Linked DNA regions of Homo sapiens. The protein of the gene in region 2 interacts with the protein of the main gene of each other region in a biochemical or structural test. Each region holds a gene or a part of one and is shown on either strand. Other genes may lie near its edges.

The links.
Region 1: the proteins of TAFA2 (region 2) and KIR3DL2 form a complex in vitro, tested with the Homo sapiens proteins (one study listed by BioGRID).

What each region holds. Positions count from the first base shown.
Region 1 is NC_000019.10:54,860,344-54,864,178, reverse strand, and holds part of KIR3DL2 (killer cell immunoglobulin-like receptor 3DL2 isoform 1 precursor), read right to left. Parts: intron 1-3,835. UniProt on the Homo sapiens protein: Receptor on natural killer (NK) cells and T cells for MHC class I molecules. Upon binding of peptide-free HLA-F open conformer, negatively regulates NK and T cell effector functions. Acts as a receptor on astrocytes for HLA-F.
Region 2 is NC_000012.12:61,710,174-61,713,773, reverse strand, and holds part of TAFA2 (chemokine-like protein TAFA-2 precursor), read left to right. Parts: intron 1-3,356; coding exon 3,357-3,368; 3' UTR 3,369-3,600. UniProt on the Homo sapiens protein: Has a role as neurotrophic factor involved in neuronal survival and neurobiological functions.

The sequences.
Region 1 (3,835 bases), on a different chromosome or scaffold from region 2:
TGCCACATATCTACAACTATGTGATCTTTGACAAACCTGAGAAAAACAAGCAATGGGGAAAGGATTCCCTATTTAATAAATGGTGCTGGGAAAACTGGCTAGCCATAGGTAGAAAGCTGAAACTGGATCCCTTCCTTACACCTTATACAAAAATTAATTTGAGATGGATTAAAGACTTAAACGTTAGACCTAAAACCATAAAAACCCTAGAAGAAAACCTAGGCATTACCATTCAGGACATAGGCATGGACAAGGACTTCATGTCTAAAACACCAAAAGCAACGGCAACAAAAGCCAAAATTGACAAACGGGATCTAATTAAACTAAAGAGCTTCTGCACAGCAAAAGAAACTACCATCAGAGTGAACAGACAACCTACAAAATGGGAGAAAATTTTCGCAACCTACTCATCTGACAAAGGGCTAATATCCAGAATCTACAATGAACTCAAACAAATTTACAAGAAAAAAACAAACAATCCTATCAAAAAGTGGGCAAAGGACATGAACAGACACTTCTCAAAAGAAGACATTTATGCAGCCAAAAAACACATGAAAAAATGCTCACCATGACTGGCCATCAGAGAAATGCAAATCAAAACCACAATGAGATACCATCTCACACCAGTTAGAATGGCGATCATTAAAAAGTCGGGAAACAACAGGTGCTGGAGAGGATGTGGAGAAATAGGAACACTTTTACACTGTTGGTGGGACTGTAAACTAGTTCAACCATTGTGGAAGTCAGTGTGGCGATTCCTCAGGGATCTAGAGCTTGAAATACCATTTGACCCAGCCATCCCATTACTGGGTATAAACCCAAAGGACTATAAATCATGCTGCTATAAAGACACATGGACACGTATGTTTATTGTGGCACTATTCACAATAGCAAAGACTTGGAACCAACCCAAATGTCCAACAATGATAGACTGGATGAAGAAAATGTGGCACATATACACCATGGAATACTATGCAGCCATAAAAAATGATGAGTTCATGTCCTTTGCAGGGACATGGATGAAATTGGAAATCATCATTCTCAGTAGACTATCACAAGGACAAAAATCCAAACACCGCATGTTCTCACTTATAGGTGGGAATTGAACAATGAGAACACATGGACACAGGAAGGGGAACATCACACTCTGGGGACTGTTGTGGGGTGGGGGGAGGGGGGAGGGATAGCATTAGGAGATATACCTAATGCTAAATGACGAGTTGATGGGTGCAGCACACCAGCATGGCACATGTATACATATGTAACTAACCTGCACATTGTGCACATGTACCCTAAAACTTAAAGTATAATAATAATAAAAATTTTAAAAAAAAGCTCATCAGAAGCACTATACAAAAAAAAAAAAAAAAAAAAAAGAAGTAACCCAGGCTCAAGTGTTCTTTTATAGCAACAAAAATGGACTAAGACAGCAACGTCCTGAGATCAGGAGGAACGTCTCAGAACAGCCTGTGCTGTCTTCCTGTTCTTCCTGGAGGAGGACGTCATGCAGTGCTTTAGCTGAGTGCTTCCTGTGGCTTCAGGGTACAAAACCCAGGCTGGGCTATTTTCTGGCTTCCCCCAGATACACTGCAAATGAGGTGACTCCATATGTCCCGAGCAGCTTTTCTGAGCCTTGAGGGACTGGCTCACGTTGAAATGTAGGCTTCTGTTGTCACTCGCTGCTTATCTGTTAGTAATGAACCTGCCTATGTAACGTATTCTCTGTGTGTTCTGTCTCCCTGGAGTGACGGTGAGTGATAGAAATTGGCATAGGCCCAGGTGCAGTACAGCAGGTGTTTAGAGTCTTCTCTGGAAAGACTGGACTGGGATTGATACACAGTGAATGTGCTTTACAGTTTCTACATCCACAACCCTCTTGACTCAAATTACATTCTCCAAGAAAAGGACACAAAAGTGAAATCAAGATCAAAAAAGCAAAGTAGAATTCTCTTATGTCAAACAGCCAGGAAATAATGATGAAGCCCATGTGAAACGTGCTACTCTTTGTGATCTCGCGAGACACATGTTAGGCTGCTGTTCCACCTGAGAGGCTGGGGGAAAGACCACCCCCTCCACCATCTATTGCTTCAAAACCACCTGTCCTCCTGTGAATTAGTAGGAAAGGGGAGCAGGAGCTAGTGCTGGTGCTGATCTCTGATTCCAAGATCTGAACTCACTCCAAGGAGTATTAGCGTTTACCTCCCCATGATCTATCTGTATCTCCACAGGTGATTGGAAGTAGGGGTGAGGTGGGGGATTTGGGTGAGGGGGAAAGTTTCTTGTGATGAACAGAGCACTTTCCCTATTTCAGGGCCTGTGCTGGTGGGTTCAGGGGGCTTTCATATTTTCCATATGATCTCATGTTCACAGAAAGCCAAATATGGAAGAGGTTTTAGGCTGATTTTCTAATGGATAAGATAAAGGATCAAAGAAGTAATTATAGAGGAATAGAAAAATGATGATTGGAATTCAGGTGCCTGCATCATTTGTGTATATTATTATATTTATGTATTTTTTATTTTTATTTTTTGAGACAGAGTATCCCTGTGTAGCCCAGGCTGGTGTGCAGTGATGCGATCTCCACTCACTGCAACCTCTGCCTCCAGGGCTGAAGTCATTCTCCTGCTTCCTCCTCCAGAGTAGCTGGGATTACAGTCATGCACCACCATCATGCCTGTTTAATTTTTGTATTTTTAGTAGAGATAGGGTTTCTCCATGTTGGCCAGGCTGGTCTCGAACTCCTGACTTCATGTGATCCACCCGCGTTGGCCTCCTGAAGTGCTGGGTTACAGGCGTGAGCCACCGTTCACAGCCTTGTATATTATGCTATACTAGGTCCCTTCATTTGCACCACCCCTCATCTAGCTCTCCCTCCTCTGCCAGGTATTGATTTAGATGCAGGAGAAATAAATCTCAGAAATAAGTTAGTGAAGCGAGGATTAAACTACCAGGAAAAATTAAACCCAGCAAGCCTTTCCAGCCAATGATTCTACCTCACAAACATATCTTATATCCATCTACTTCATTCATTTAGTGTCTAAATCAGCACCACATTTCACCAGTGGGGCGGCAATTGCCTTTTCCACGGTCTCCTAGATTCCAGTTATGCAACTGAGCCTCCCTTATTTTCATGTCAGTCATATTAATCATGTAGGGATTCCTGGTTACCTCGAGGTGAATCCAATGGCTGTGAGTGTCAAACACACGCTCCTTGTTGCTCCTTAGTTTCCTGTGTACCCAGTGTGCTCTCCGTCTCTCTACAGTCATCTTGTCATTCTCCCCACCTCATTCCCAGCATTTGAGTCAGAGCCTCTTCCTTCCACATCAGATTGTTTTCACCTTTGTGCCTTCACGGCTGACAGCTGTGTGTGCAAAATCCTTCCGCCAATCTTTCAGGGGTTCAATCCGTGTTTTTCATTAATGTCACAAATATCTGATTAGTGAGAACTTCTCTGTCACCTGAAATAATACACTCAGCATTATCTATTATTGATTTGAAAATTTGGCTTGGCCCCGTGGCTCATGCCTCTTATCCCAGCGTGTTGGGAGGCAGAGGCTATTGGATCACCTGAGGTTGGGAATTTGAGACCAGCCTGGCCAACATGGTGAAACATCCTCTCTACAGAAAATATGCAAAAAGAGTTAGCCGGGCGTGGTGGTTGTGGTCTGTAATCCCAGCTACTGGAGAGGCTGAGGGAGGAGATCAGTTCAGCCCAGGAGGTGGAGGTTGCAGTGAGCCGAGATCATGCCACCGCACTCTAGCCTGGACGACAGAGCAAGGCTCCGTCTCAATAAACAAGTAGGTAAATACATAAATAAATAGATTTCATGCACA
Region 2 (3,600 bases):
CTCATATTTATTTAAAATAAGCATACAAATCATAAAAGGTTGATATTTTTGTTTAATTTTAGGTAATAATTTCATTTGCAAATAGTATTTGGACCTTGCATAGTAAACTTTTTCAACTGGTGATAATGTACCTATATTTAGAATCATTTTCCTATACATTTTTAAACCTTTGGTTTTCCCATCTTGTTTAGTGCAAACCCTGAGGTTGTCAGGGAGGGTGCTGGTAGATATTTATACATGTTCATCCTTATTTTGTGTTGAAAAGGATGAGTCATTAGTTAGGCTTTAATTCCTTCAATGCAGTTCTCTAAACTTTCATGAATGTCTGTTAGTATTGTTCAAAGAAAAACTTTAGCCGAATTAAATTGAGCAAAGAACAATTTGTGAATCATGCAGTCTCCCAAGCAAGAGTAGGCTCAGAGACTCCAGCACAGACACGTTGTGGAAGATTTATAGACGGAAAAAGGAAAGTGACATAGAGAAAACGGAAGTGAGGTATAGAAACAGCCAGATTGGTTACAGCTCAGCATCTGCCTCATTTGAACACAGTTTGAACAGTTGGCCACCTTTGATTGGCCAAAACTCGGTGATTGGTGTAAGAGTGGGCTACATTGTGTTTACACCTCCATTTAGGTTACAGTTTATGATGTACAGAGAAACCTTTAGGCTGAACTTAAAATATGTAAGGAGGAAGCTTTAGGCTAAATTTAATAGTGTGATTCTTTCATTCTACTTTTAGTGGCTCTCTTGTTAAAGATTTATACATTCAAAAGCAAAAAAATCCCTCCTAAAATCCAGACCTTTTATTTTTATAGTTGGTCAGGGTTGACAAAGCTAGGTGTTAAATAACATTATAATACTTGATCTTCATGGCAATACTGCCATTCTGGCCTAAATACAGAGCTCTTGATGCCGAATCACCATGTGTCCTCTTGGTCAAAATCAAATAATCAAAAAAAAAAAATCAAGTATTAGATTGTATACTTTCATCTAATATTAGAAATGATTTATACCATATTCTTCATCTCATATGCTAGGATATTTTTAAAATTAGTAATCCAGGAATATTGTGTAAAACTTAGGTGTGAGAATAGGTTGCTTTAATTATGCTGTAATCCATGTGTGTTTAGACAATTACTTCTTTTAGTCATGTTTAAGTTTTGTTTCTCTAGCAATTATGTTAGCTGATAGAAAGATATCATCATGAAAATGGATGTTTATGATGTTTTTGAGGATATGGGTTATATCCTTATTTATATGTGTTTGTATGTTTATGTGTGTGTATATATCTATGTTTTTTCTCTACAGAAATGGAGAAAAAAATTGTTTTAGTTTTATAAGCCTTTTGTATTATACTTTTAATTTAGATGTCTATTTTCAAAATTATATGAGAGCAAAGTTTTAATATGTAAATAGCTGAGAGGATCATTTCTCAACTTTATATAAACTAGTAGAGTCAAATATTTAGCTTGAAATGAAGATATAGGAATGCATCTATTATACTCACTAATAGATTACTTAGAACCTGAGCTTGAAGTGGATCAAGAGGACGTGTCACTTGCTATCATAGAGTCATGGCACCACATTTATGCAGTTCATTTCCGCCATGTTTCTCCATTTGGCTACACTGAGCAACAGCAGAGGCTAAACCATTTATTCTCTCTCAATTTCCTCTCTCTCTCTTTCTCTCTCAATTTCCTCTCTCCATCTTTTACACACACACATATAGCTTCCCCTCTCTTTTCTTGTCTTTTCAGCATTAGTTTTGAAAATATGGTCCACATTCATACTCAATTTGGGAGCCCTTCACAGAAATTGTATATGATGACTCCTGAATGGCAGGCAGATTGATAGTTGATAATTGATAATGAGATCAATGCTATGCCTAAGATATCTCCTGCTCCCAGAATCTCAAAGATTCAGTAGGCTCTTCATGTGTTTCCAACCCTCCATCCTTGGCACAACTTCTTCCATGGTTCTGTGCATGGGAGTAAAACACTTCAAATATGCAGGCAAAGAACTCCTTCCTTGGGAGTGCTAGCAGACCACTGAGACAGAAATGAGATGACTGTCTCCATGCATGAAAACACTTTTTTGCCTTTTGTACCATCTCCCTTTGGTAGTATAATTTGAGACTAGCCATAGCAAAGTCTAGAACTAGCTTATTATTTTGTTTAATATATTCATTTTTTACATAATTGATCAGAAAACAATGAAACCAAACAGACTTTTGTAATGTTTTTCAAAGGACAAGTAACAATGTCACTTAATAGAATAAAATCAAAATTTTGACAATAATTTTTTAAAATCACTTTTTGTTTTAGCCATTCCTAGAAAAGAACTGTTAGGTAACTCTCTAAATACCCTGCCTGATATTAGAATAGAATTAGAAATTTATTAACACAGCAGAAATCGAGATATTTCTGCTGTGTTGGTAATCTCTTCTCCTCTCCCCTCTTTCTCCCTCTATCCTCTCTCTCTCTCAAAATCTCTTTTCCTCTCCCCTCCTTCTCCCTCTCTCTTCTTCTCCCTCTCCCTGTGTGTTTTCCTCTGTATCTATGCATACGTAGATATGTATGTATATATGTATCAGGTATTCTATCTGTTTATTATTCTTTTTTCCTGTACACAAATGGTCTTTGGACTTTAGTAGGTGTGAAGTTAGTATGAATGTTTTTAGTGATACTTAAAATAGCATTAATAGTATATTCCAATCAATTTTATGAAAATTTTGGGGCACCTTTAACATTTGGTACAACATTTTTCTATTCCTTATTGTTTCTTTCCTCAGATATTTTTGTCCCCCATAAACAGATTTTTTTCAAATATAATTTTTCAAATATAATTTTTCAAATATAATTGACTCAAATAAACCCTCAATTTTTAAACTATTTCAAAAATGAACTTTATGGAACCAATCCCCAAGGGCTTTTTGAGAATATGATGTGACTGTGTTGCTGGGGACAAAGGTCTTTCTTCACTGAGGCCTAGTATGATGTGTTTGTGATATTTGGGTTATGGCTACCAAGCCTGTGCAAAAAAACAAGGATTCCAGAATCACTCTCTGGGTGTGAGAGGGATATTGTTGTCACCAGTTGGGATAATTCTAGTCACAGTTATATTCACTTGGATAATTGTGCAAATGGCTTTAAAAATATTGTGAGATGATAATGAGAAAAAAAGTATATTTTTATATGATGGAAATACCTGCATCTGTTAGTCCTTTAAAATTAAGTAATGCATTTGATATAGCAAACACCAGCATTTTGAGTTATCTATTAATTTTTAATTGTGTTTAGTTTTAAGATTATCGGTATGTTATGAAATGTTGACTATATTTTCTCCTTCCTTTGTAGGTAACCCATTAACCCAGGAGAAATCAAGTGATCCTCAAGGCTGATGACATTGAACATGCGCATAGAAACTTAACTCAACTCCTGAGGTGATCTTGAAGATTTTTATACCACTTGAAAGAGGCGCTCAATAGTCTATTTCCAAGGGATTTCATGGCCTCTTCTTGAAATCAAGACTTTTTAAAAGTCAGACATGAACTTGCATGTCATGAAGATTTCAGCAGATTTGAACTGTGTTCAACTTGTA